Regions from separate parts of the Homo sapiens genome. Here all the other regions are linked to region 1. The links come from fine-mapping of genetic effects on gene expression. A gene starts in region 1. Each other region holds a variant in brackets. All regions are shown on one strand. Distances are between the middles of the regions.

Evidence for each region. PIP is the estimated chance that this variant, and not a neighbour inherited with it, causes the effect. A credible set is the group of variants that fine-mapping cannot tell apart.
Region 2: its variant is the best candidate, but not a certain one, in a credible set for the expression of TSNARE1 in tibial nerve (GTEx, PIP 0.79).
Region 3: its variant is the best candidate, but not a certain one, in a credible set for the expression of TSNARE1 in whole blood (INTERVAL, PIP 0.86).
Region 4: its variant is the best candidate, but not a certain one, in a credible set for the expression of TSNARE1 in visceral fat (GTEx, PIP 0.58).
Region 5: its variant is the best candidate, but not a certain one, in a credible set for the expression of TSNARE1 in esophagus muscle (GTEx, PIP 0.58).
Region 6: its variant is the best candidate, but not a certain one, in a credible set for the expression of TSNARE1 in spinal cord (GTEx, PIP 0.90).
Region 7: its variant is the best candidate, but not a certain one, in a credible set for the expression of TSNARE1 in prefrontal cortex (ROSMAP, PIP 0.59).

The regions. Positions count from the first base shown.
Region 1 is chr8:142,401,330-142,405,392 of GRCh38, reverse strand. It overlaps TSNARE1 (t-SNARE domain containing 1), which reads left to right and starts at 2,211. Exons shown (of 14, transcript NM_145003.5): 1 at 2,211-2,289. RefSeq lists silencers at 1,313-1,362, 1,803-2,372, 2,513-2,652 and an enhancer at 1,306-2,081.
Region 2 is chr8:142,284,455-142,288,517 of GRCh38, reverse strand. TSNARE1 (t-SNARE domain containing 1) reads left to right here. Exons shown (of 14, transcript NM_145003.5): 11 at 4,033-4,063. Among named protein-coding and RNA genes, the nearest start is that of LINC00051, 88 kb to the right of the region's middle. The variant C/T (reference allele first, on the strand shown) is at 2,022.
Region 3 is chr8:142,214,435-142,218,497 of GRCh38, reverse strand. The region is part of intron 13 of TSNARE1 (t-SNARE domain containing 1); the gene reads left to right. Among named protein-coding and RNA genes, the nearest start is that of LINC00051, 18 kb to the right of the region's middle. The variant G/A (reference allele first, on the strand shown) is at 2,530.
Region 4 is chr8:142,314,906-142,318,968 of GRCh38, reverse strand. TSNARE1 (t-SNARE domain containing 1) reads left to right here. Exons shown (of 14, transcript NM_145003.5): 7 at 335-425; 8 at 3,877-3,966. Among named protein-coding and RNA genes, the nearest start is that of TSNARE1, 86 kb to the left of the region's middle. The variant A/G (reference allele first, on the strand shown) is at 2,075.
Region 5 is chr8:142,258,151-142,262,213 of GRCh38, reverse strand. All of the region lies in intron 12 of TSNARE1 (t-SNARE domain containing 1), which reads left to right. Among named protein-coding and RNA genes, the nearest start is that of LINC00051, 62 kb to the right of the region's middle. RefSeq lists an enhancer at 1,667-2,167. The variant A/G (reference allele first, on the strand shown) is at 1,721.
Region 6 is chr8:142,305,408-142,309,470 of GRCh38, reverse strand. The region is part of intron 9 of TSNARE1 (t-SNARE domain containing 1); the gene reads left to right. Among named protein-coding and RNA genes, the nearest start is that of TSNARE1, 96 kb to the left of the region's middle. The variant A/G (reference allele first, on the strand shown) is at 2,542.
Region 7 is chr8:142,322,732-142,326,794 of GRCh38, reverse strand. All of the region lies in intron 6 of TSNARE1 (t-SNARE domain containing 1), which reads left to right. Among named protein-coding and RNA genes, the nearest start is that of TSNARE1, 78 kb to the left of the region's middle. RefSeq lists enhancers at 177-316, 627-826. The variant C/G (reference allele first, on the strand shown) is at 1,571.

The sequences.
Region 1 (4,063 bases):
TTGGTCTCACTGGTTGGCCAAGGGGTGGGACCAGAGTTCTTCCCAGGGAGTCCTGCTTCTCTGGAGGAAGGAGGGAGCCCAGAGCTGCCCGAGGTCATGTGATGACCTCTTCCAGGGAGGGGCAGAGATGAGGGAAGGGAGGGGAGCCCCGGCCCTAGGCCCAGGCAGCTATTGGCTATTTCCCTCATCCCTTCCTGAGGACCCCTTAGCATCCTCCTCCCCCTCCCCATCGGCTCAGCCTGAGGGAGTGGGCTCCTGGCTCTTCCACGGAGAGGTTTACCTTCCCTGACTTGCTGTGGGGCACTCAGGCGGGCTCATCCCAGATTTCGGAGGAGCCAACAGGTACGGAGCCCCTCCTCTGGTGGTTCCTACCCACGCTAGACCATTCCCCCTGCAGTGTCCAGGCACAGAAACAGCCCCATATACGCCTTGTATGGTCAAGAAAGCGGCTCCTGGAGGTGGTCTGCCCTGGGAGGAAAGGGCTTCACTTTCCCCTCCTTTGCACACCTGAACACGGAGCTGTCAGAGGAGGCTGAGTGAGGTGGCGGCCAGACAGACAGCGCCAGCCACGGAAGGGGAGGTGGGCACCGTGCCAGGCACCCGGCATCCTCAGTCCAGACTGACAGCTCTCAGACAGGCATTGGTCCTGGCGAACCTTCCCCTTCAAGTGGAAGCTGGGGGGTCAGCAGTCATGGGCATCCTCCCTGGTTAGGAGCCGGCTTCCCTGCACTCTAGCTGTCCTAGCCGAAGAGTGAAGCCCTGTCCAAATCATGGCGAGGCTGCAAGACAGGCACACACTACTGCCTCCTGGGAGCCCAGGGGAGACTGAAATACACCAAGGCAAGGAGCGTGGGTGGGCCCAGGACAGGCCGGCCTGAGCACCAGCCCAGGAATGCTGGTGGGCATGTGCCCCTCTTCCCTCCCACCCATGTGTGCACACATTTGTGCCATATACTACCGTTCCCATGTTTGCGCCTGGGCACACACTTGTGCCAGCATACACACACTTGTGCACTTGCACCTGGTGTCCAGGAACACTCCCTCAGCTCACAGACGTGCGCTGTGTGCACACAGTACCACGCAGTGTCCACGAGCACACTTTTGTGTTCGTGTTCACAGAACCCGTGTGCGCACACATGCACAGTCCTGGGCTGCAGAGAACCCCAGCCAGCGGGGCGGTGGGGGAAGGGGAGGGCACGCCTCCTTCCCAGGAGCTCAGCAAGGCTGTCCGCGGGAGCCCAGGGCTGCCCGCAGGGCTTTGGCGTAGGCCTCGCAAGCACAGCAAGCATCACAGAGTGAGGGCGGCGGGAGAACCTCCGCTTGCCGGAGAAGGTGCAGCGGACTCATCACTCTTGCTCTCCTGCCTTGGGTGTGACTCTTGGTTCACCTCTGGGGAAACAGGCTGAAAGGTGACCCTGGCGGCCCAAGGACACACACCCATTGTCCGCAGGTTCCTCCCAGGTGTCTTCTCCAGCAGGTCACCGGGAGAGCGAGGGGCTGGAGTCTTTCGGGAGCTCAGTGCCCGCAGGCAGAGCAGGGAAAGGGAGGCGCCCCAGGCCCCTGCGGAAGGAGGTCCCAGGAGGGTCTCCGCAAGGGGCTCCCTACTCTGCACTTCAGCTCCTCCAGGGAGGGGCTGCGACCTCGGGCAAAGGTCCCTCAGATGTCTTGAGACTCAGTTTCCTCGTTGGTGACACTGGGAGTCCGGAGTCCCCGCGGGGCCTGCCAGCCCCCGGCCGAGCACGGCCCCACGCGGAGCCCGTGCAGCCTGACTTGGGGCCCAACGCCCGTCCCCGCAGCGCGAGACGCGCAGGTGCCCGGCCCTGCCCTGGCCGAGACCCGCCGCCTGCGCAGCCCCGCAGAAGCTCCAGCTTTGGCCCGTGTGAGGTCCGGGCTCGGCCTGGGCTGGGCGGAGCCCGCTCCCGAAGCGCCTCAGCGCCGGGCCGCCGCCCTCCACGTGACCTCCACCTTCGCCGTCATCCCCATATGCAAAACGGGGAAACGGGGAAACGGAGGCCCACCACCAGGCAAGTGAGGACAGCCGACTCGCGCGCGCACCCGCAGAGGCCTCTTGGCCCAGCCGACCGCCGTCCGCGCCGCTTCCGGCTCCGCGCCGGGGCCTCTGGGGCGGGTAGTCCCCGCGCGCGTCCGGGACCGGCGGCCATTGGCTGGTGCGGGAGGGGGCGCGCACGCCGGCGGCGGGAGGGGCCGTCACGTGATGTTTGGGTGCCCGCCCCGCCCGCCTCGCCCGCCGTGAGCGCCCGGAGCGGTCCGCGAGCCACCGAGGCCCAGGTGAGGCGGCGGCGGTGGGGCTGGGGCCTGGCCGGGGCCGGGCGTGGGGCGGCGAGGGCGAGGCGGCCGGGGACCAGCGCGGGGCCCGGAGCCCGGCGGGGGCCGCGGCGTGGCGTGGTATGGGGCTTGCGGGAGGCCGGGCGGGGGGCGGGGCCGCGCCGGTGGGGAGGGGAGGGGGCGGGACCGTGCCGGGGGTGGACCCCAGGGGCGCCAGGGACCCTGAGCCGCAGCCCCGCGAGAGCGCCGCATTTCGGGGACCGGCCCGCGGGCACATGAGCCCCTCGGCGGGTCCTCGCGCGCTGTTCAGACCCCAGGTCGGTGGGCTCTGGGCCGGGCAGCCGGTGCCTGCGCCTGGAGGTCAGTGCCGTCCCGGGGAGCGCCCCAGCGCCTACTTGCTGGGTGCAAGGGTTGGTGCCCTGCAGCTCAACGAGCGGAGCCCGCCTTCGAGCCTGAGCTGGGGACCCCGTTCCTGTGTGCTTGCCTCTCCATGCCTTTCTGTCCCTTCTCCAAGTTGTAAGAAGGTGCTTCCTGGGTACTGGGGCCTGCGACATCCCCACCAGGGACTTTCAGGTGATGTTGATCTGTGCTGCCCCCGCAGAAACTCTCCAGGGACCTCGTGTTTGTTGCCTCATGGCGCACTCCTCCTGCTCTGGAAGCTCTGCCATGTCCAGTGTGGTAGCCCCTAGGCATGTGTGGCTGTTTACATTGTCCTTAACGTGAAGGATTCAGGTCCTCCGTGCCAGTGGTCACATGTCCGACACTCAGTAGCCACACGTGTCTGGTGGCGGCTGTGTGGGGCAGCGCGGGTAGGGAACACTGCTTATCACAGGAAGTTCTGTGAGCGGTGTGGTGCGGCTCAAAATGGGCCTCGCGCGTGCTGCTCCGCCGGTGCTTCTCCGCCCCTCATCCTGCCAGGTGCCTTTCCAGCCACACCTGGCGCCCTTTCTTTCCTCTGCTGCACACTTGCCTCTTCTTTTAGTTCCTGGCTCGCTCCTGGCTTGGGGGCAGCTCCGCTTCCGGTATGTCTGAGCTCACCTTTCTGACCGCTCTCCCTACAGTATTTCTTGTTTGTCATTGTCACTCATCTGCTTGTTTTCTGTTTTATCTTTAGTGCCTGTGAGACAGGGGTGGGGATTGTTGCTTAGGATACTCCCAGTGTGGACACAGTATTGAGTTGAAAGAAAGCTGAAGTTTGTTAGTACTGGAGTGCTTCCCCCGACTGAACCGCTGCTTTCATACCGTTCGACCCCATACATCACAGGACCGCAGCAGAAATCTGGTAGAACAAATGTTTGGACACAGCAGCACAGGCCGTGAATGCAGGTGGCTGTGGGAGGCTGGCAAATCCAAGACGACTTCCTGGAGGAGGTTGAGTTTTGGCTGGGTCACCTCTGTTTCTCTCCTCCTCTGCTGGCCTGGCCCCATGAACATCTGGCAGCCTCTGGCTGCTCTGACTCTATCCAGGAACCTTCCCTGGACACTTCCCCTGAGTCTGGCCTTCTGTAGATGCTGGGTCAAGAGCCTAGACCTAGGCACTCAGTCTAGGGGCTCATGGGCAGCCAGGTGTCCCTAAGTCTCTTCCACAGCTCCTCATGGCCTGCAGAGCGAGGTCCTGGGTTTGGCTCCTGCCAGCAGCTCCTGCCACATCTTCAGTCCCTGCTTTATGTCCCTGACAGTGCAGTCATTTTTCCTGCATAGTCTGTGGCTTTTCTCACTGGTGTGCCTGTCGATGCAGAGCCTTCTGCTTGGAATGCCCTGGCACTCCCGTGTTTGT
Region 2 (4,063 bases), 120 kb after region 1:
CTATCTGTGAAGCCAGGCAGTGGTAGTGAGTGTCGGCGATGAGATGGAAAATCACTTCTGCCACTGCCTCCGGGGGCCTCCCCCAAAACCTAGAATGCAGGCCATCTGTGCCCTGGGGGCACCACAGGGTCTCTGCCTGTCTTGGGAACACCGTGTCCCAGCCCGCGCTTTTGGGGTTGTGGAAGTTGACTCTGATGTCAGCAGGGAACGCCCAGTGCAGTGGCCGTGTGTGCACAGAGGCGTGCCTGGAACACTGAGGCCGAGCCTCAGGGACTCGCAGCTGCCCCTCTTCCACCCCGCCCCAGCCGCTGGGCGTCCCAGGCCCCTGAAAGGCACTGGACCCGGCCTTGCTCAGCCACACCCCTCCCTGGCATCTCTCACCAAAGCTGCATCCCCACAGGCTGGGCAGGGGCTCGGAGCCATGCTTCCCCCCAGGGACACAGCAGCATCATGCCAGTGTGGCCTTTCTCTGCCCCTGCTCATGGGAAGCAGATTGATGGGTGCACACACGTAAGGCCCATCCCATGCTGGTGGCTGCAGCACGGGACGTCCTGAAGGGAGCCCCACGATCCCCGAGATCTGACCGAGGTCCTGGGTTCCACGACCTGGAGGGCGGCCCACTGTCCCTGAGATCTGGCCGAGGTCCTGGGTTCCACGACCTGGAGGGCGGCCCACTGTCCCTGAGATCTGGCTGGGGTCCTGGGTTCCACATCCTGGAGGGTGGCCCACTGTCCCTGAGATCTGGCCGGGGTCCTGGGTTTCACGACCTGGAGGGCGGCCCACTGTCCCTGAGATCTGGCTGGGGTCCTGGGTTCCACTGTCCCTGAGATCTGGCCGGGGTCCTGGGTTCCACGACCTGGAGGGCAGCCCACTGTCCCTGAGATCTGGCCGGGGTCCTGGGTTCCACGACCTGGAGGGCGGCCCACTGTCCCTGAGATCTGGCCGGGGTCCTGGGTTCCACATCCTGGAGGGAGCCCCACCATCCCCGAGATCTGGCCGGGGTCCTGGGTTCCACATCCTGGAGGGTGGCCCACTGTCCCTGAGATCTGGCCGAGGTCCTGGGTTCCACGACCTGGAGGGCGGCCCACTGTCCCTGAGATCTGGCCGGGGTCCTGGGTTCCACATCCTGGAGGGTGGCCCACTGTCCCTGAGATCTGGCCGAGGTCCTGGGTTCCACGACCTGGAGGGCGGCCCACTGTCCCTGAGATCTGGCCGGGGTCCTGGGTTCCACATCCTGGAGGGCGGCCCACTGTCCCTGAGATCTGGCCGGGGTCCTGGGTTCCACGACCTGGAGGGCGGCCCACTGTCCCTGAGATCTGGCCGGGGTCCTGGGTTCCACGACCTGGAGGGCGGCCCACTGTCCCTGAGATCTGGCCGGGGTCCTGGGTTCCACATCCTGGAGGGTGGCCTTGGGTGCCACCCCGCGTTGATGGTGGTAGTGACCTGGGTTGGAGTCTGTCTAAATGTGGGTTGGATGCGGATTCCAGCATTTTCCAGCTGTGTGTCATTGGGCAGTCACTAACCCTCTCAGTGACTCAGGTTCCGTCTTCCCTGTCAAATGCAGCAATAACAGGTGAGTCACATGCCGCATGAGGAGATGCTTCTGCCTGTGAAGCCCTTGGGAAGGCCCCTGCAAGTCCCTGAGGCCATGAGCCACCAAGACCAGGCTCAGGGTGCACCAGGCCTGGGTATGCTCAGTGGCCAGGGTCGAAGTTGGTGGTGAGGTCATGCCTGGCTTCTGACGGGATCACGTCTATAACTGGGAAGCCCGTGGAGGTGGGGACCCACCTGGCTGAGCCATACTTCGTGACCTTGATGTCCCCATTGTAGGATGGAGCCTAGGCTTGGTCTCCAGAACCCGTGACCTCACTCTGGCAGAAGGTGGTGGTGACGAGGAGACCAGAAACCGGCCCGGGCCAACCCGCACCCATCCTTTCGTTCACTGTTGCCCCCATAGCCATGCCACAGATGCACACTGAAGCCATGACCCCTGGGCCCCACCTTCTCGCTACCTTCCCAGC[C/T]ACTGCCCAGTTCCTGCAGAGGGACCGCCTGCCTCTGCATCACATTTAAGCCTGATAATTGAATTGCAATTGATACTACGTGTCAGTTTAAGATCATGCTAATTGCTTCATTTCCCAGAATACTCCTAAAGAGAAAATGAATTCCCTTGTAACATTTTGCAGTGGGGTGAAATGACCCTCATGGAAGTCAGTCCCAGCTCTGGAATGAGCTGCTGACTGGACGGGTGTGCCAGGGCAGGGGTCACGGCAGGCCTGAAGGATCTTCCCCTGGACTTGGCTGGAACCCAGCCATGTGCCAGGCGCTATGTGAGGAGGGTTGCTTTTGTTCGGGTGATAAGTGAGCAAACCTGGCTTGAGGTGGCCAGGCTTGCCCAGGGCCATGCATCTGGCCAGCGGAGGAGCCGTCCTAGGTGCAGCGTGGCAGTCAGGGAAGGAGTGGGCATCTGGTCGGTGGGCAGGGGTCTGAATCCCAACTCTTCCCCTTTCCGAGAGGCCCTGGAGGTCATGGGACCACTTGAGCCCCCAATCCCTGCTCTGTTAGATGGGTGCTAGGATGCCCCTGGGTGGGTGCCAGGTGTGAAGGGGATGGTATGTGCCTTGCCTGAAGCACAGCCCAGGTGTGTGCTCTGAGAGTGGCGTGGCCACGTCTCTTAGGATCATCAGAGCCACTTAACTGGGAAAAAGGAGTTAGGGTAAAGGTAGACAGCATGGAAGATGGAAGAGGCCAGCACAGTATGCCGGGGTGGAGGGGTACCCGAAGTCCTCCTGGCCCACGTTTCTGTTCCTTACTCTGTTCACTAGCTTCATGGAGCCACTCAGTCCTTGGATAGCAGTGGAGCAACCATCCACTTAGCCGCTCATTGACCAACCCACCCACCCACCTGTCCATCATCCATCCACATACCGTCCATTCACTCTTCCATCCATTCACCCACTCATCTATCCCCCCATCATCCATCTATCCCTCATCCATCCATCCATCATCTACCCACCCACCCACCTATCCACCCATCTACCCACCCATGCACCCATCCATCCACCTACCCCACCCACCCACACATCTATCCATCCATCCATCCATCCATCCACCCACCCACCCATCCATCCATTCACCCATCCATACATCTACCCACCCACCCATCCATCTACTCACCCATCTGTCCAACCACCTATCCACCTACCCATCCATCCATCCACCTACCCATCCATCCATCCACCTACCCATCCATCCATCCACCTACGCATCCATCCATCTACCCATCCATCCATCCACCCATTCATCTGTCCATCCACTCGCCCATCCACCCATCACCCACCCATCCATCCACTCACCCATCTATTCATCCATCCACCCACCCATCCACCATTCCATTTGTCCACCCACCTATTCACGCATCTGTCCATCATCCTTTCATCTACCCATCCACCCTTTTGTCCACTCCCCTGAACCCGTTCGTCCATCTATCCCACTTCTTTAGGATTTGCTGAGCAGTGCCTGTGTGCTGGCCCATGCTCAGTGCTGTTACACAGAGAGGGAAAGGTAGACCCTTCTGTGCAGGAGCACCCAGGCAAGTGGGGATGGTATATCTGCCCTAGACATTCTCTGCTCTCTTGCAGTCAGGCCTTTACAGTGCTGGGGATGCTGTCCTTCACTAGACTGCAAATCCTGGGGACAGACCCTGGGACCTCTGTACTCAGGGAAGCAGCTCACAGCCCCTAGGACACCTGGAGAGGTTGGGGTTTGGCTTCAGAGTCAGGAGATGGAGCACTCAGATCCCTGCCCTGTCTCTGACTTTTGGGGTGACCCTGGGCTCACCCCTGGCCCTTTCTGGACCCAGTCATGCCTTCTGTCACAGGAAGTGGACAGACCAGCCGGTCCCCAGCTGTTCTCTGGTTCCTGATTCTGCAGGTGCCACCTGGGCCCGCCCCAGGTTCCATGGGAAACTTTCAGGTGCCCTTGGTGTCTGCCCCACAGCCCTGCTCCTGATGTGGTTCTATGTTGTTTCCACAGAGCAACTTGCTGGATGTGAATCAGATCATCA
Region 3 (4,063 bases), 190 kb after region 1:
ATTGGCAGTGAGCTGAGGGATGGGCACTGTTCCCAACCAGACCAGGCTCTGAGTGGTCTGTGCTCCAAGAAGGCCTAGAAACCCACACAGTGAAGCTCCAGGGAGCCCACAAAGTGGTCTGGCCCTCGTGGTGCCTCAACAGGCAGCTCTCCAGGGTGGACACTGGATATGACCTGGTCACACGCTGAGCCCTGACCCTGGCCACACCCTGAGCCCTGACCCTGGCCACACCCTGAGCCTGATCCCGGTCACACTGAACCCAGATCTTGGTCACACGTTAAGCCCTGACTCTGGTCACACTCTGAGTCCTGATCCTGGTCACACTGAGGCCTGACCCTGGCCACACACTGAGCCTGATCCTGGTCACACGGAGCCCTGATCCTGGTCACACACTGAGCCCTGACCTGGCCACTCTCTGAACCCTGATCCTGCTCACACTCTGAGCCCTGATCCTGGTCACATACTGGGCCCTGATCCTGGCCACACACTGAGCCCTGATCCTGCTCATACTCTGAGCCCTGATCCTGGTCACACACTGAGCCCTGATCCTGCTCATACTCTGAGCCCTGATCCTGTTCACACTCTGAGCCCTGATCCTGGTCACACACTGAGCCCTGATCCTGGCCACACACTGAGCCCTGATCCTGCTCACACACTGAGCCCTGATCCTGCTCACACCCTGAACGCTGATCCTGGCCACACCCTGAACGCTGATCCTGGTCACAAACTAAGCTCTGATCCTGGTCACACACTGACCCTAATTCTAGTTACATTTTGAGCCCTGACCTTGGTCACAGGCTGAACCTAAACCTGGCTATGGACTAGCCCTGACCCTTCATTGATGAGGCCAGAAAGCATGGTGCATGCACACTGTTTCCCTGGAGCAAAAAGTTGATGCTGACGTAGCTGAAGTGAGTAGGTCAGAGTCACCTTTTAGGTGATAAACCCAGTTCAAGGGCTCACCCCTGCCCATGACCACCTGCCCCTGCCTGCCTGCTGGCTCTCGCCTCTGGCCAGCATTCAAGATCTCAGCACCATGGACAGCAGCAGAGGGGCCCAAGCCTCTTGTGGGGTCAGCCATTCCTTACGCCGTTGCTTGCTTGCTTTTTCTTTCTTTCCCTTTTTTCTTTCTTTCTTTCTTTCTTTCTTTCTTTCTTTCTTTCTTTCTTTCTTTCTTTCTTTCTTTCTTTCTTTTTCTTTCTTTCTTTCTTCTTTTTATTTTATTATTTTATTTTATTTTATTATTTTATTTTTGAGACAGAGTCTTGCTCTGTTGCCCAGGTTGGAGTGCAGTGGCCCTATCTCGGCTCACTGCAACCTCCACCTCCCAGGGTTCAAGTGATTCTCTTGCCTCAGCCTCCTGAGTAGCTGGGATTACAGGCATGTGCCACCATGCCTTGCTAATTTTTTGTATTTTTAGTAGAGTCAAGGTTTCACTGTGTTAGCCAGGATAGTCTTGATCTCCTGACCTCGTGATCTGCCTGCCTCGGCCTCCCAAAGTGCTGGGATTACAGGTGTGAGCCACCGCGCCCGGTCCTTAGGCAGTTTCTCCACGACTGTTCACCTACCGTCTCCTCTCCCTGTTTCATCTCCCCTCTGATGGGGGCTGAAACCCCGGTTCCCCTGCTGTCTGGTGTCCAGCCCAGTGTGGGGCCCAGGGATGTCCGAGGCAGATTTGTCGACTGAGAGGAGGATAAACAACCAGGCAGGGTCGGTGCCAAGTATCTGCCCATTTTACAGATATGAGGACAGCTCAGAGGGGTTGATCCTTGCCAAGGACTTTGGGCCGGCCTGAGTCTGTGCCTCTGCTCGTCCCCCACCCCAGGCTTTGCTCCTCTCAGGCAGGAGGGAGAGGATGGAGTGAGGCAGAGCCCTGTGCCCCGTGCCCAGGCTGCTGACCAGTGCGGGGAGGGGTGGGGTGGGACAGGGGGTGCTATGCTGCTGTGCCAGGCCGGGAGGCCGACACCCTCCAGCCTCATCTCCCTGAGAGCCAATTTCCATAACCCTGCAGTAGCATCTTCCTGGAGACCCCTCTTGGGCCCCCGAGCGTGTGGCCAGAGGACGCCAGAGCCCAGGCAGCTCCTCAAGTCCCAGTGATTATACCTGTGCTACTCAGCTGATCAGGGAGAGCCCAGGCCTCATCCTTCCCAGCCCCACACCCCCAGCCCCTGCCTCTCTGCACTGCACCAGCGTCCGCCCATCTGTTCCAATCCAAAGATCTCCCCAGCAGCATTCATTTCAGTGCCATATGGCTGAGGCTCAGCCCTCAGAGGAGGGGCGGGGGCACCATGGCAGAGGTGGGAGCTTCTTCTACACCGGGCCCTGGGGGTGAAGAGACCCAGCTAGGGGTCTGGAGGAGCTGGGGCTGAGGGGCGGCAGGGAGTGGGGAAGGCTCATGGCTTGGGCCTAGAGGATGCCATGGGAACCTTTCCCCCTCAGATCTGCCCCATCACAGGGCCACTCAGCCGGCAGATGCCACATGCCATCTGCTGAGGCAGGCAGAGGCTGGGCTGAATTTGCACAGGGCCC[G/A]AGGGCCATCCATCCCTGTATCCCCAGCCAGGCCTCACCCCGAATTCCATGGCACCACAAAGCCAGCCTGGGGTGCAGGCGGAGGGTTGGCCCATTGACCTTCAAGCCTCCAGAGCTCAGGGGAATGTGGCCTGCACTAGATGCTGAAGGGCGTGTCCAGGCCCAGCTGGGTGGGGCTGAGCTGGCAGCCTCAGCAAAGGTGCCCACATGGGGCTGCCACTGCCAGCTGGCCTCTCACAGGTGTGTACTGGGTGGGGCAGGGACTTCCCTCCCAGGCTGCTGCCCCCTTGGCCTGCCCTTCCCCTCTCTCGGCTCAGTCTGCCCTCCAGGTGTGAGGGCAGGGAGGACTCCCTGGTAGGTCACGGGGGACAGCTCTCCTGGGGGTTCTCAGGTTCGAGGCTGGGCCCTGCTGCCCTGGCTTGGACAGAGTGTGTGTGGGGAGGCTGAGGGGTGGTGGTGGACAAGGGCAATGGATGAGACCCAGTTCCCAATCTTGGGGGACACATGTGGGGATGGGAGGGGCAGTTCTGGCCAGAAGATGGGGGCATCAGGCACTGCAAGGCTGCTCCCTGACCACCATTGCTGCCACCTCGCATTAGACCCTGTCCACTGACACCAGGACACTGCGTTGTGTTGAGGGGCACGCTGAGCACCACCATCCTTGGGGCGCCCCCACCCTCATCCCCAGGCAGCTAGGAAGTGGGGGGTGCCTCCGAACACAGCTGGATCCTGGTCTGGCAGTCACTCTGCCAGAGCAGTGCAGTGCCTGGGAGTTGGAAACAGCCGTGCACATCACAGATTTGTTCACTCGATCAATACGCATTCATGGTGTCCGTGCGGGCCCTGGCCTGGGCCCGGGGACACCTCTGTGGACACCTCCATGGACAGGACAGGTCTCTGCCTGCAGGTGCAACTGTCTGGCTAGGAGCATGGACAGAGTGTGATGAGGCCAGAGGTGAAGCCCCTGAGGTGGGAAGCGCTGGGGGAGGGAGCCCTTGTCGGTGAGGGGTCCTTATCAGCTCAGCTGCTGTAACCAAGCACCACAGGCGGCTTCTACCACAGAAGAAACTGCTCTTTGCCCTGGAGGCTGGAAGTCCCAGATCAGGGTGCCGCCAGGGCTGGGTTCTGATAGGGCCCTTCTGGGCTGCTGAGGGTGACCTCTCCTACATCCTCACGTGGCGGAGGGAGGGCGGGAGCTCTTGGGGCCTGGATCCCACCAGGAGGCTGCACCCTCAGGACCACGGCACTTCCCAGAGGCCCCACCCTTCACAGCATCACCCTGGGGGTTATTTTCGCCTTTGAGTTTTGGAGGAACACAAGCACTCAGACCGTAGCAGGGGCTGGAATGAGGCTGGTTGTGATTTTAAACAGGCCTCACCGAGAGTGGGGTGCAGGGAAAATCATTCCAGCAGAGGGAACAGCCCAGGCCCAGCGCAAGGTAGACCTTGGGCCTGGCAGAGCCCAGAGTTCTGGGCAGGAAGTGAGGGGCCAAGTTTTGGGGATGACTGGAGAACTATCCCGAGGGATCCAGGGA
Region 4 (4,063 bases), 86 kb after region 1:
CTCTTGCTGGGTGTCTGCCTGTCTCTCCCTGTCCTGGCTCTTGGGCCCCCTCCTCTTTCTCTGTGGGAATCATCGCTGCTCTTGTCTCTGTTCCCTTCTCTCTTTCTCTGAGTCTTTGCCTCTTTCTGTTTGCTACCCTTTCCCTACTCTTGTTTTCCTCTCTGCTGTTTTCTCTGTCTCTGTGTGTCTCTCGGCCCTCTCTCCGCCTGTCCATCCATCTGTCTCTGTCTCCCCCACTCGGCCCGTGCGTCCCTGCTTGCTCCGTCCTTCTGGGCCCTTGCTCTCTGCTGCCTTCCTCCCCTGCCTTCGCTCCTGGCTCCTTCTCGGCCCCCAGGCACACGGCACAGCAGGAGACCAACAAGACCATTGCAGCCAGCGCCAGCTCCGTGAAGCAGATGGCCGAGCTGCTGCGCAGCTCCTGCCCGGTATGTTCCTGGGGTCTGGGGCTGGGAGGGAGGAGAGGAATGGACCCCTCTGCCTGTGATGGGAGCAGGGATGTCACACGAGGCAGGATACAGGGAGGCTGACGTGTGTGGATGGACACAGACTGGCCTGGCACCCAGCCTCCCATGGCTCCATGGCTCAGAACCTGTGTGCAGCCATTCAGGCAGCAGCCGTGTGCTGACCACGTGCCGGGAGCTGGTGTGGCCACCTGAACTCTTGCTGTCCTTGGCTTATGCAGTAGTGGGGACAAGAGCACCCTGGGTCTTCCTGGCAAGGCCTTACTGGAAGCTGATGGCCCGCCATTGTTTGTTTCACCATCCTCTCCCCTGCTGTGCATCCCCTGCCCCTCTGCTGCATCCGCCACCCAAGGCCACCTGCACGTGCACCCTCCCTATCCCCTCACCTACCTTGGCGCCTTATCAGACGCATGGGCCTCAAGCCAGACATATGGCCGTGGCAGTGGCCATCAGCATACCCACTGCCACAGCCATCACTACCGTTCCGGCTCAGCTGCCCCAGGGCTGTTCCCTCATTTCCACCCTGTCCGCAATTTTTTTTTGTGTTTTTGAGACGGAGTCTTGCTCTGTCTCCCAGGCTGAAGTGCAGTGGCATGATCTTGGCTCACTGCAGCTTCTGCCCCCAGGGTTCAAGTGATTCTCATGCCTCAGCCTCCTGAGTACCTGAGATTACAGGCGCCCGTCACCATGCCCAGCTAATTTTTGTGTTTTTAGTAGAGGTGGGGTTTCACCATGTTGCTCAGGCTGGTCTCAAACTCCCGGCCTCAAGTGATCCTCCCACCTCTGCCTCCCAAAGTGCTGGGATTACAGGCATGAGCCACCACGCCTGGCCCTGTCCCCACTTCTGACTGTCCCCACACCCTCCGCTCCACCACACCAGGTCAGTGCCCAGTTGCTGAAGATTGGAGGGTACTTGTGACAAAAGATTAAATACTGCTGAACCCTAAGATTTTACAGGGCAGGAGTCAGCAAGCTGCAGCCTGCTGGCCCGAACCCGCTTCATAAGCACAGTGTGAGACTCTGGCTGTACCTGCTTCATGTATACAGTGTGAGCCGCTTGCCCACACCCGCTTGATGTGTACAGTGTGAGCCGCTGGCCATACCCGCTTCACGCGTACAGTGTGAGCCGCTGGCCATACCCGCTTCACGCGTACAGTGTGAGCCGCTGGCCATACCCGCTTCACACGTACAGTGTGAGCCGCTGGCCATACCCGCTTCACGCGTACAGTGTGAGCCGCTGGCCATACCCGCTTCACGCGTACAGTGTGAGCCGCTGGTCGTACCCGCTTCACGCGTGCAGTGTGAGCCGCTGGCCATACCCGCTTCATGCGTACAGTGTGAGCCGCTGGCCATACCCGCTTCATGCGTACAGTGTGAGCCACTGGTCGTACCCACTTCACGCGTGCAGTGTGAGCCGCTGGCCATACCCGCTTCATGTGTGCAGTGTGAGCTGCTGGCCGCACCTGCTTCACGTGCACAGTGTGAGCGAGACGCCAATCTGTCCCTGCCGTAGGTGCTGCCCATAGTTGCTCTCACTGCCTTGGGAGGGCTGGGGTTGCAAGTTCGGCCTGCTGCAGAGCCAGCAGCGTGGCTCAGCCAGTCCTACAGGGGAA[A/G]TGCATGCCGCCCTCCCTGTGGAAAATACATGTGACGTGGCCAGTGCCGTGTTGGGTGTGGTCAGCAGTGAGGAGCGGAGAGTTAGGCAGGCCACAATGTGGTGAGGCTGGAAGACTGCATGCCCCCACGCAAGAAAACGCACAGTGTATGGTTCTGTTTGTGTGAAACATCCAGAAAATGCAATCTGTGGAGACCAGAAGTCGATGAGCAGTTGTCAGGGTTGGGAGCAGGGCTTGGTTTTGGGGTGCCTGCAGGCAAGGCGCAGGGCCCTTTCTGGGGTGATGGGCATGTTCTAAAACTGGGTTGTGGGGATGGCTGTACAACTAAGAGTTACTGAACTCTACACTTAAAGCGGGTAGATTTTATCAGATCTAAATTAGACAGTAATAAAACTTGTACTTAAAAAAGTAGAGTCAGTTCAAAAGTTAGTTACACTAAAAAACTGTAACAGAGGCAGCAGTCCCCTGTCCAGTGATGGGGTGGCCAGAGTCTCCCTAAAGGCAGATGACAGGAACACTGGGAGCTTTGTGCTGAGCGGCCTGGAGCCTTTCCATGCATGGGTCACTCCTCATAGCCATGGCTGCCCTGCGGGGACCACTCTGTGGGGACCAGGTGCTGCCCTGGCCTGTGCCCTCGGGCAGTGATGTCAGCAGCGTCATGACCAGCATCGACGCCTGTGTCTGACCTCTTCCTCTGTAGCTTTGTTCTCCATTCTCTGACTCAGGTGTGCCTGAGTCACTTATTCATTTACTCCTTCATCCAAGAATACACGCTGGGTCCCTCTTACGGGAGGCGCTGCGCTTACGTGAGGTGCTGAGCAAGGCCCCACATGGTGGAGGGTTGCGATTCTGAGAGGCGTTTCTGTGGGGTGAGAGCAGAGTTGGGTGGTCCGTGCAGGCAGTTTCCTCGTGAAGCGAATGGCTCCTTCACGCGGCTTGGTGGGTGCACGGTCAGTGCCTACCACGTCTTTGACTCTGTGGGCCGTGGACGCTTTGATGAGATGTAGTGCCTTCGATTGTGGGAAGAGGTCAAGGCTGTGGTAGGCTGCTCCCAGTGCCCCTCGGCTGTCAGAGGTTTACCCCAGACCAGCCCGCCTTAGCCTTGGCTCTCTCCAATCCTCCGATAGCCATGGGGTGGGTGCTGGGAGGAAGCTGTGGGCTCCTTGGTGCTGCTGCTGGTGGGTGGTGTCCACGGTGAGCCAGAGCAATGAGGCGGGCCCCAGGGCTGCGTGTCCAGCCCCACCCCGGCTCCGTGCGTGTCCAGCCCCACCCCGGCTCCGTGCTTCTCCAGCTCCAGCTCTGAAGCAGGTGCCTGGTGGGCACTGAGGTGTGGTGGCGAACATCCCAGCAGGAAGGAACTGGGGTTGGTGGACCCTGGAGGCCACGGGGAGCCCAGATACAGGCGAGATGCTGGGGAGGGGGATGGTTCTGGCAGTGGCCCCACCACCTATGTGACCACAGACAAGTCACTCGGGACTCAGGGCCACGACGTCCTGCGCTGTGGAAGAGGAGTCACAGTGCTGCTCGCGGAGGTGGTGTGGGGCCGGGTTTATGTGCCTTGGGTAGCTCCTGGCTCCGGCAGGTGGTGTTGACCCCTGCACCGGATTTTGTGGTGATGGTGTCCCTGGGGACCCTGGGTGTGCCTGTGGAGACGACGGTGACACGGAGGGGAAGTAGTTGATGGCGAGCCCCATTCTGAGTGTGGGAAGGTGGGACATCGGTACGGGAGGAGGTGTGGGTGGTGGGGGCTGCTGGGGCAGGGCCAAGCCTCCCATGCCGTGCCAGCTGTACCTTCTCTGCAGCAGGAGCGTCTGCAGCAGGAGCGTCCTCAGCTGGACCGGCTGAAAACCCAGCTCTCAGATGCCATTCAGTGCTATGGAGTGGTGCAGAAGGTGAGGTGCTGGTGGGGGCAGTGGGGGTCTGCAGGCCAGGTGGGGTCGGCCTCGGTTCCCGGAGCACTGTCATGGCTGTCTTGTCCCTGTGGGCCTG
Region 5 (4,063 bases), 140 kb after region 1:
GATTATAAAGTTTGTGAGCAAACGAAGGCCTAAAAACAGCCATGCCACCTGGAAGAAGAAGGACGAGGTAGAGAGACTGCTGTCCCACCACGGAGTCGCCGCAGGCCTGAAGGGGACTTCGGTGTCTGCTGGAGGGCTGGGCCTTGTCTTGTTACCATGAGCAGGTTGGCGTGAGCAGCTTCATGAGCCTGTGAGAGGGACACCAGGCAAGAGTTGATGGGGCTGGGAGCAGGCTGGCCCCGCCGTGGGATGGAAGGAGTGGCTGTTGGGGAGATGCCCTGGGCAGCTGTGGCCGGCAGGACTCTCCTGGGCATAAGCCCTGCTGCCCAGGTTGGACTTGGCTGGCATCTGGCACTGTGACCTGTGCCCCCAGGGCAGGTCTGAAGGACAGACTCGTAGCATGTTGGAGGAGGCTCTGCTGGGTATAGCGAGGGCAGCCTCAGACCCCTCTATGCCCGTGAGCTGCCTTGTCGGAGCTCGTGGTTTGGCAGGAAGGCCGGGAAAACGCAATCGTTAAAGGAGAATAATAACCCCCTGCACCCCCACCCCGGGGCCGTGGCCAGGATGAGGAGCAAGGAGAAATGCTGCCTTCACAGATCTTTCCTCCGCCAGGAACATCCTGGGGCTCACATGGGTCAATGCATTGAGGCATCACAGCGCCTGTGCAGTGGGAGCGGCTATAGTCTTCAAATAACTACAGAAAGCAGGGAGTGCCAGCATCCCAGCATGTGCTGAGTTCCCAGCAGGTGTTCACCACTCTCCCTCCCCGGTCCTCCCTCTCTCCTTCATCCCTCCTTCCTCTCTCCTCCCACTATCCCTCCCTCCCCCCTCTCTCCTCCATCCCTCCTCCCTCATCCTCCCACTCTCCCTCCCTCCCTCCTCCCTCTCTCCTCCATCCCTCCTTCCTCTCTCCTTCCCTCCTCCCTCCCTCTATCCTCTCTCTCTCCTTCCTTCCCTCCTCCCTCTCTCCTTCTCTCCCTCTTCCCTTCTCTCCCTCCTCCCTCTCCCCTCCCTTCCTCTCTCCTTCCTCCCACATCCTTCCCTCTCTCCTCCCTCCCTTCTACCTCTTTCCTCCTTCCCTCCCTCCTCTCTCTCTCCTTCCCTGCTCCCCCTCTCTTCCCTCCTTCCTCCTTTCCTCTCTCCTCCCTCCTGCTTCCCTCTTTCCTTCCTCCCTCCTCTTTCTCTCCTCCCTGTCTCCTCTCCTCCCTCCCCACCCCCCTCCCTCTCTCCTCCCTCCCTCCCTCCCTGACTGCTTTGTCCTCTCTGCATCCTGCCTTGCTGCTTCCCCTTAGGTCTCAGATATGTGCTTATCAGAAGATCTGCCCTCACCTTCCCTTCCCTCCCTGACCCAGCTGCAGAGGCTCTGCCCTGTGGTCTCCCTCCCTGTGGAACATTAGCTCTGGGGCAGGGCTTTAGTGCCTGAGGCAGAGCTCTGCATGCAGTAGGTGCTCAGTAAAGGCAGATCACAGAGTGCATGTGCCCTCTGTGCTTCCCCCAGGAACTGGTGAGGCTGGGGCGTCAGGATCTTTCCCGGGGGACTCAGCCGACTGCTGGGGTGAGATGAAGACATGCAGAGAGGTCTCTGGCCACATCGAAGCTTTCCAGGGGAACGGGGCTCAAGGTTCTGAGAAGTGAGGCTGGGTCAGATGGTGGCTAAAGAGTTTGGGCTTCTGAGTTAATCCAAGGCCAACAAAGGGCAAGGTTAGCTGATAACCCACCC[A/G]GCCTCCCTGGCCGTGGGCCCCGGCCAGTTTATGCCCCAAGGGAGGACAGAGGACGCCTGGCCAGGGAGGGCTGAGTCCCTTGAGAGTGGGCTGCCAGACCCGGCCCCAGTGCCCATGCTTGCTCATCTGGCCCTCAACTTCCCGACTCGCTTTTCTTCCCTCCTTCCCTTCTCTCTTTCCATCTCTAAACAGTTGTGCTTCTGTGGCTCTCAGGCTCTGAGCTAGTTGTGCTGAAATCATGATTTGACTTTTTCTACTTTCTTCCCTGTAAAATTAGGGGCCTGCCCCAGGGTAAGACGTTGCACGCTTTTCTGAGGTGGCTTCCAGGTGGCAGGCTCTGGGTTCGGGGCTGTGGAGACCGGAGGAAGGAGTTAGCCATTGGCTCTAGGGAATCAAGGGAGGCTTCCTGGAGGAAGAGACACTTAACTGTGCCTGGAAGCCAGGCCCAAGCAGAGGCGGGCTGGGGGAGTGCAGAGGGTGAGTCCTGGGCCTCTGCGGCCCGAGGGCACCTGGGCAGGGTGGGGCCAGTTTGGGAAGGTGCACCAGGCCCTGAACCACTGCCCTGTTCCTGAGGGCCAAATTTCCTCGCCACAACAGCCTTCAGGGTTTGCTACGAGGCATCCCCTAGGTGCCCCCGGGGGAAGGCGTGCCACCAAGTCTCCTTCCAGAACCCCTTAGTTGCATTCTTAGCAACTCGGTATTCTAATCCTGAGAGCTGGGAGCAGCCACGTTGCAGGCAGGGAAGTAGCAGAACGGTAGGGGAAGGGGCCTGCGCCGGTGCTGGGGTGGCAGCCCTGTAAGAGGCTGCTTGTGGGGGACGTGGGCCTGTGTCCGGGGCGAAGGAGGCTGCCTTTTAATTGGGAGGCCAAGCAGGTTAAATAAACAGCAATTGGATTTTGCTGAGGCCTGAGCTGCCTGCAGTGTCCGCGGGTACAGAGAACACTGGAGAATCTCATTTTCGTGATCAGATTGTTATAGATTCTTCCCCCAGTCTGCTGAGAAATGTAAATGTGAATTGTGTTTCCAGGTGCTGTAAAGGACAGCCTGTAGGGGTATGGGGGGCAGGGAGGGTGACCCAGTCTGAACTCGGCCCTCTCAGGCCTGGGACCCCAGAAACCGTGCCCTTTCCTGTCTACAGAAGCTCTGGCCGTGCCCACTTGACCAGTCCTTCTCTGGGAGAATGCTGAACAGAAAAATAACCCTAGGCAAAGATTTAAATCAATCTGCTGCGTCTAATAAATACCAGGCTCACAGCTGAGGGAAGGGTAGAGACAGCAGTCACGGGAGTTGGGGTGCTGTCGCCCTTCTGCCCCTCGGCCCCGTCCTCAGACAACGTGCCCATCCTCCTCACCTCACCTGGGAGTGTCCTTGGTGACTCAGGAGCAACTTCAGAGTCAGACAGACCTGGGTTCAAGGTGGGCTGTGCCACGCCTCAGCTGCAGCGTGACTGTGGCTGGATGTATCTCGCCTGAGCTTGCCGGACCGTGCAAAGCGGTGGCTCAGGGGCCCCTTGGGCTGGCGGTGGGAGTAGGGCCCCGGTGATGCTGCACCCACACACACCTTGGACACCCCTCTGTTCTGGCACCGTGCCCTGCATCTGGGGCTCTTCCAGACTCTGAGCTGGGTGGGTTCTGGGGTCTCTGAGGTGAGCAACAGAAAGGCATGCGTTCTGGCTGGGCGTGGTGGTTCACGCTTGTAATCCCAGCACTTTGGGAGGCCAAGGTGGGTGGATCACTTGAGGTCAGGAGTTTGAGACCAGCCTGGCCCAACATGGCAAAACTCTGTCTCTACTAAAAATATGATAAAAAAGCAAAACCCTGTCTCTAATACAACTACAAAAAAAATTAGCCAGGTGTGGTGGTACATGCCCGTGATCCCAGCTACTTGGGTGGCTGAGGCATGAGAATGGCTTGAACCCAGGAGGCAGAGGTTGCAGTGAGCCTAGATCACGCCACGGCACTCCAGCCTGGGCAACAGAGTGAGACACTGTCTCAAAAAAAAAAAAAAAAAAAAAAGCACAAGTTCTGCAGCTGACTGGGTCCCAACTGAGGGAAGGCAGAAGGCCCAGGGGGCGAAGAGAAGACTTGTCCAAGATACAGTAAGCACTCCCTGAGTTCCACCTACAGCGTAGGTGTGCACTCGGGGCAGCAGTGGGCGGGTGCGTGCATTTACATATGCCTGCATGCATGCATCCGTGTGTGTGTGCATTTGTGTGCATGTGTGCAGTGTGCACACGCGTGCCTTCATGTACCAGTGTGCATTCCTGTATATGTGCACAGCTTATGCACTCGTGTACTGTGTGTGCACACAGGCATCTGTGTGTGCATACAGCGTGTGTACAT
Region 6 (4,063 bases), 96 kb after region 1:
TCAAGGAGGCTAAAAAACTCTTGGCAAACTAGGAATAGATAGGAGTGCCTTTAATCTGCCAGAAGGTATCTTCAAAAACCCTACAGTTAACGTTAGGCTTACTGAGGGATGTTAAAGTCTTTTCTCCTAAGATAGAAGATAAAACTAGGGCATCTAGTACTGTGGTTTCTGTTCCCCATTGTGCCAGAAGTTGTATCCAACGCAGTATGGCATGAAAAAAAAGAGTAGGATTGAGAAGAAACTGTGTTTCATAGACAGTGTGATTATGTCCATGGAAAATCCGAACGCACCTGTAGCGTGCTGTCAGAATTCATCAGTGAATGCGGCAGGACAGGTCACTAGACAAGAAGACATTGTGTATGCTGGCAAAAGACAGTTTGGAGAGGAAATTTAAAGACTGATATAATAAATTTATTACAATAGATAAATTTCTTCAAAAAATTCTATGAAGAGCGGTTTAAGGCCTCTACATTAAAAAACATGCCACATTACTAAGAGAAATGACAGATGACCTAAACCACGGAGGGGTTGCTGTGCTTATGGAGATGTCAGCTCTCACCCAGTGGATGATCTAAACCATGGAGGGGATACCGTGTGTATGGAGATGTCAGCTCTCACCCAGTGAATCTGTAGGCTCAATACAATCCCAATAAGGTTCCAGCAGGTTTTCAGTGTGTGTGTGTGTGAACTGTCAAGCTGATTCCAAAATGTATATGGAAATATGAAAGACCCAAGATAGCAAAGGCAATTTTGAAGAAGAACGAAAGGGATTTATACTATCAGGTATTGGAACACACTATAAAGCACAGAAATGAAAACAGTGTGGTGTTTGTGTGAGGCTAGACACACCAGCCCGTGGACACACCAGCCCACGGACACACCAAGCCGTGGACACACCAGCCTATGGACACACCAACGCATGGGACAGGGTGGAGACTGGACACGGACCACACGTACGTGGCGGCTGGGTTTGTGGCCGAGGTGGACTGCCCTGCCACGGGAGGTGGGTGATTCATTCAGAGCTTGATACGGATCACTCGGATGTTTGAACTGGAAAAAAAGGACCCTTTGCAAACGTCAGCTCACCCTGTGCAGAAAGCACTTCCAGCCGGACTACAGACCCACGTGCGAAAGATAAGGCAGTAGCACATCCAGAAGGCACCATGGGAGGCTCCCCGACGCCTTCACGGTGGACAAGTATTTCTTACACAGACGCACAAGTGCCAACCGCAAAGGAGAAGGTCGACACACTTTGTTAAAATTATACCCCAGGAAGAGAGTGCAGCCCACAGCACAAGACAGGGCGTTTGTACAACACGTGTGAAAAGGACTTACATCCTTAATATATAAAGATATCTTACAAATCAACAAGGAAAGGGCAGACAACTCTATTGAAAAACAATGAAAGGACAGCAGCTTTCCACAGGCACCTCACAGAAGAGGATTCCGGTTGGCTCATAAGCCTGTGATTGTGTACTTGGCAACACGAGTTATCAGAAAAATGGCAAAGAAACCCATGATGGTAAATCACCACACACCACACCCACACAAATAACTAGAGCAAACATGAGTGAAAACCTCTGCAAAAGCCGGGCGTGGGCTGCGTGCAGGCGGTTGCACTCTCATGCCTTTACTGGTGGGGTGTGCCTTTGCATCACCACTTTGGAACACTGTTCGAGAATATCAAGTTCAGCATTTTCTGACCTAGGATCTTGCAGTTCTGCCCAACAGACATGCATATTCAGTTGGCCCTTCGTATCCATGAGTTTCACATCCATGGATTCCACCACTCAGACTGAAAATATTTTTAAAAGATGGCAGCTGTTCTGAACATGGACAGCCTCTTCTTTTCTTGTCATCATTTCCAAAACAATACGGCAGAACAACTATGCTATTTACTACATAGCATTTACATCATATTAAATATTATAGGCAACCTAGAGGTGATTTAAATATATGGGAGGATGTGCGTAGGTTGTATGAAAATACCAAGTCATTTTATATCAGGGACTTGCGCACCCACAGATTCTGGTATCTGTGGAAGTCCTCGGCCACTCCCCCGTGGAGACAGGACAACTGTGTGTTGACAGAAGTCACATGGGAGAATGCTCATAGCAGCCCCCACGCAGTGACACAACCTGGAACACCGCCCAGTCTGACCAGCACAGAAAAGCAGCACCTGCTGAATTCATGCCACGGGGGACTCCACAGCAGCCAAAAGAGTGAGCTGTGGCCACCACGCCCACTGGTGATGTCTCGGACATAACGCTGAGTCCAAGCTGAATTCATGCCACTGGGGACTCTACAGCAGCCAAAAGAGTGAGCTGTGGCTACTGTATGATCAGTGGCCCCACCAGTGATGCCTCGGACATAACGCTGAGTCCAAGAAGCCTGAGACCCAAGGGGATAGACTGTGGGATTCCATTTCTGTAGTATTCAGAACCAGGCCCCACTGGTGGACAGTGTTAGAAGTTGGAACTGGGTTCTCCTCTGTTGGGGGCCTGGGATGACAGGTGCTGGAGGGAGGCCCCGGGGGTCCTG[A/G]CCAGTGTCCTGTGTCTTGGCTGGGATGTGTTTCCTTTGTGAGCAGTCATAGAGCTATATCCTTTGCACCTGGCATTGAAACACAGATGTATTGCCTTTCGGTAGAATTTTCTTTTAAAAAGGTGGGGAGTGGCCAGTAGTGCTTCTGAGAAATCATGGAAGGTTAGATTATTTCTAGGAATTTGCAAACTATAAATGATGAGATGATATGCAACCCTGTTCAACAAAAGGACTGTTGCCAAGTTGATGCTAGGCTGATGTGGGGGGACTGGGGGGCTGCTACTCACAGGCCGGGCAGCCCTGGCAGGTGCGAGGGGCACTTGCTGCCTTCCCCGTCTCTTGCCTGTCTCCCCTGGGTGTGGGGTGAGCAGCTCAGCCTGTGTGGAGTTGGCGATCCTGGCTGTGGTCCGTAGTTTTCAGCTGGGTCGAGGGTCAGTCTCAGACCCAGCTTGGGCTCAGCCAGTGAGCAGCATCCCAGTCCCTGGGGCAGCATCAGGGCAATGGCCCCAGTGGCAGGTCATGCTCTGTCTCTGCCGTCACTGGCCACCTCAGCCTACATTTCCACCAGGACTTCGTGTGTCCCCAGCCGGGCTGCAGAAGTGAAGACCTGCTTCACTCTCACGGGCTGGCTGGAAATTGCCTAGACACGCCTCCATGTTTGAGGCACAGGGCTGGAGGTCGCCCCTTGTCTCTGGGTCCATTTCCCTTTGATTTAACGTGGGGCTGGGGGAAGCATTGCCACAGCCGTGTCCGTCCTGATGTTCTGGGCTTTGCCTCCAGAGACTCCACCAGTGAATAAATAGAGTCTGTTGCTGCTTGGAGGAAACAGTGAGCTATCTGGGGCTCCTGAAAAGACACCACCACTCCCTGTGTGAGCGCCTCTTGCCCTGGCCCCTGCCCTCCCTCGGGTCGGAGTGCATGAGAAAGTGGTCTCCTTCCCAGAGCCTTGGAGAGCCCTGAGCGCCGGCCTCGGGTCCCTGCTTTCTGAATGCCTGGCAGAGCGGAGTCTCTTCCCACGGGAAACCGTGTGTGCCCTGTCTCCAGCACTCACGTTAGAGCATGTCTCTTCCCTACGTGTCGGAACAGGGACCCAGGCCCTGAGCCCTGTGGGGAGGAGAAAGCCGCCTTTGTCTGTCTGCCTCTTGAGCTGGAAAACTATCACAGGGCCGTCCCCTCTGCGCTTGCCCCAGCACCTTGCCAGCAAATCCCTAATCCCAGCCTCGGAGCTCAAGACCCAAATTGGGCCTTTGTGGGGAGAATAAAGGAGCGCTTTGTGAGCCTTTCAGGAGGAGGCCGCGGAGGGACCCGGGCGTCTAAGCCATCTCTTCCTCCCCTGGCTTTTGTCCTGCACTGCTGGGGAGAGCGGCACCAGGCCCCCGATCCTCCCGCTGTGGAGGTGAGGGAGACCGAGCACCTGCGGGGTCTCCTCTGGCCCGCACCCCAGCCCTGCCGCCTTCCTGGGTGTCCACACGGCTCGCATCCCAGTGTGACTGCCTTCCTGGGTGTCCACACAGCCCGCACC
Region 7 (4,063 bases), 79 kb after region 1:
CTGATCGGGTATTTTTCTTTTTACTGTTGAGTTGATTCCTTCTAGAAGTTTCCTCCTGCTGTGCAGCCCATGCTCTCCAGGGCCTTTACTGGTGCTGGTTCCTCATCCGTCTCGTGCTCTCTGGGGCCCTCCCCTTCGCTGGTGCTGGTTCCTCATCCGTCTCATGCTCTCCGGGGCCCCTCCCCTTCGCTGGTGCTGGTTCCTCATCTGTCTCGTGCTCTCCGGGGCCCTCCCCTTCGCTGGTGCTGGTTCCTCATCTGTCTCGTGCTCTCCGGGGCCCTCCCCTTCGCTGGTGCTGGTTCCTCATCTGTCTCATGCCCTCCGGGGCCCTCCCCTTCGCTGGTGCTGGTTCGTCATCCGTCTCATGGTCTCCGGGGCCCTCCCCTTCGCTGGTGCTGGTTCCTCATCCGTCTCGTGCTCTCTGGGGCCCTCCCCTTCGCTGATGCTGGTTCCTCATCTGTCTCGTGGTCTCTGGGGCCCTCCCCTTCGTTGGTGCTGGTTCGTCATCCGTCTCGTGGTCTCCGGGGCCCTCCCCTTCGCTGGTGCTGGTTCCTCATCCGTCTCATGCTCTCCAGGGCCCTCCCCTTCGCTGGTGCTGGTTCCTCATCCGTCTCGTGCTCTCCGGGGCCCTCCCCTTAGCTGGTGCTGGTTCCTCATCTGTCTCGTGGTCTCCGGGGCCCTCCCCTTCGCTGGTGCTGGTTCGTCATCCGTCTCGTGCTCTCCGGGGCCTTCACTGGTGCTGGTTCGTCATCCGTCTCATGCTCTCCAGGGCCCTCCCCTTCGCTGGTGCTGGTTCCTCATCTGTCTCATGCCCTCCGGGGCCCTCCCCTTCGCTGGTGCTGGTTCGTCATCCGTCTCGTGCTCTCCGGGGCCCTCCCCTTCGCTGGTGCTGGTTCGTCATCCGTCTCGTGCTCTCTGGGGCCCCTCCCCTTCACTGGTGCTGGTTCCTCATCCCTCTCATGCTCTCCAGGGCCCTGGTCTTCGTTGGTGCTGGTTCGTCATCCATCTACTCCAGCCTCTTTTCCTCTCTGACCTCCTCCCCTCCCTTGGTGGTGTTGCATATCCCGCAGCTCGGAATCCCTCCTCAGTGGGGCCCCAGAACCCCAGGTGTCCCTCCAGCCCTGCCACCTTCTCTCCTGCTAACTTAGGGTCCTTCTGGACTGACCTGGGGTCTCCCTGTTAGTCCCAGGCCAAGGAAGGGACCTCCAGGACCCCACGCCACCCTGCCCTCACCGGTCGTGGGCTGGCCTGTCCACTCCTCTTGAGCTGCCCCGTGTCCACGCACTTCTCACCTCCTCTCCACCTCCTGGTCCAGGCCCGGCCTTGGCCCCTGGGCTCCTGCACTGTCTCCTCTTGGCCTCCCCACCCCTAGTCTTGCCCCCGACGGTGGATTGTCCATGCAGAGCTCAAAGCGATCTTTAAAAATGTGGATCTGATCACATCAGTTCCTGCTCAGGATGTTCCACTGGCCTCCCTCCCTGTAAAGTAAAACCCAGAGTCTGTGTTGTGGCCTTTCAGGTCCGCCCAGCATGACCCTGACAACTGTAGACCTGTCTCATGGGCCACACCA[C/G]CCCCTCCAGTCCCACGGCCTCAGGCTTCTGCCCGCGCTGCCCTCTGCCGGCCTCACTTCCAGGCCCGCTCAGTCCAGGCCTTGCCGGCCCACTCGCCCTGGCCACCTCCTCCACCGTGGGCGGTCCCTGGGTCTGTGCACCAACACCACTGCGTTGTGTTGACTTGGGCATCACCTGCTCATGAAACTGGGCCGTGGTCTACATGGAGTCACTCCTGGGGTGTTGCCAGGTCTAGGACGGGGCAGTGTACCTACTGGGAAAGGGCAGGAACCAGGAAATCAAACCAGCCCAGCCACAGGCTCTTCCCACAGCCCCCTCAGCCGAGGGACCGGCAGGGGCGTCGCAGTCACTAGGAACACGGACAGAGGGGCGGGAGCGCCGATTAACCACTCGAGTCTGGAGTGGGCAGCAGGGTGCCTTCCAGGGCGAGTGTGTCACCTGGAAGCTGGCATGGAGGCTGGGAGAGCTCGGGACCCGGTGCCAGGGAGCCTGGGCTGGTCCTGACCCTACCTCTGCCCACTCCAGCTCACCAGCTCCAGCCTGCAGGTGCTTTTGTGACTCAGGGCCTTGTGTCTTCGTCTGTAAAACACAGGTGGTCATGGGAGTAAATGAGCAGGTATGAGATACGCGGGACATGAGGTGCTTCTAAACGGCATCTTAAGTAATGACAAGCAAATGCGAGAGCCTCCGTACTCAGGTCGGTTCTGGCCCCGGCAGACTAGGGCAGGGCGCTAGGGCAAATGGGCCTCAGGTGACACACCCCCCAGGCAGGCCTCGCAGACTCCTCAGTCACCTGACTGCTGGCAGCAACGGCACCACCTGGCTGGTAGTACAGGAGCCGCCGAGCTGGCAGCTGTGCAGACCTCGCACAGGAGTGCTGGGAGAGGGATGCTTGGGTCAGGTTTCCTGGACCCTGTAGCCGCCTGCCTGGCCTTTCACCAAAACTGTGCAGAGCTGGCTTTGTGGGGATACATGGGTTTTGTAAAGCGGTCGTGGGGCTTCAGGTGCAGTTTGATGAAGGCTCCAGTTCACTTGGTTTCTTTTGGCTCTGCTGATGCATCAGATTCAATCTCAGGCCAGCTTCTCTTGAGGTGACAAATGGGTCTTATGGTTCCGGGCATTGCATCTGTATCCCACATTGAATGTGGAGAGATGGGCCCGCTCTCTCAATGTACAGCTAGCGTTTCCAGCCTTCTCTGCCTCACTTGGCTCCTGGCTGAAGCAGTCCAGGGCGGGTGAGGGTCACAGGTTCACTGACATGGGCCTCGCTGGTGTTGGGGTCATAAGACAGGTGCAGTCTCATCCATCTCCCTGCACTGGATCCACTGCTGTTCCCCAAGCCATGCATGCTATGGTGATGGAGTGGGACCCCTCCCTCGGTGGCCGTGAGGATGGATGGGGAAGTGAGACACAAGCGGGAGGGGCACTCTATTTGTTGTTGTGGCAACTGCCTCGTGATGGCGAGTGGGAATGCTGACATCATCAGTCCATTTTCTAGTGAGGATGGTGACTCCCTGGCTCTGACAGTGTGAGCTCCCGTGTCCTTGGGCCAAGTGCCCTGCTGGTCCTGGGTTGCTCTGTTGCCCTTGCTGAGGCACCTCGGCCTTTGGAGCAGTGTCCAGCCTCAGATTGGAGTCGCCATTTCCCGGAGGAGCCCCCTCCAGTGGGACCCACACTTGGCCTTGCTGCCCCGTTGCCCCTCACGAGGCCTCCCCTTGCCAGCAGGAGTCTGCCTAAAAGTGCGTCTTTAGGATGTCTCTCATACTTTGGCGACAGGCAGAAGTTCCAGAGAGTCCCCGATGGCTCACTGTCCACTCTGGAGACCCAGGAGGTGGCCACGAGCTGTTCCTCGCCTCGCCTGCCCCATGCCACAGTGTTCAGCCAGCCATGCTGGTGCTGCCCCCCGTGCTGCCCAAACGCATCTCCTCCTCTCATACCCCTTTGTAGCTCAGTATACATTTTAGAATCAGTTTGTCAATTATTATTTCTTTAAAAAAAAGCTTTCTATAATTTTTTGGGATTACCTTGAATCTGTGGATAAATTAAAGAACTGGCATCATAACAATATCGTCATCCAGCCCACAGACATGGCTAGGCTGGCCTTTAATAACAATATCGTCATCAGCCCACGGATGCAGCCAGGCCGGCCTTTCATAACAGTATTGTCATCCAGCCCACAGACATGTCCAGGCCGGCCTTTCATAACAATATCATCCAGCCCACAGACACGGCCAGACCGGCCTTTCATAATAGTATCGTTGTCCAACCCACGGACACGGTAAGGCCGGCCTTTCATAACAATATCATCCAGCCCATGGACACGTCCAGGCTGGCCTTTCATAACAATATCGTCATCAGCCCACAGACACGGCCAGGCCGGCCTTTCGTAATAGTATCGTTGTCCAACCCACAGACACGGTAAGGCCGGCCTTTCATAACAATATCATCCAGCCCATGGACACAGCCAGGCCAGCCTTTCATAACAACATCGT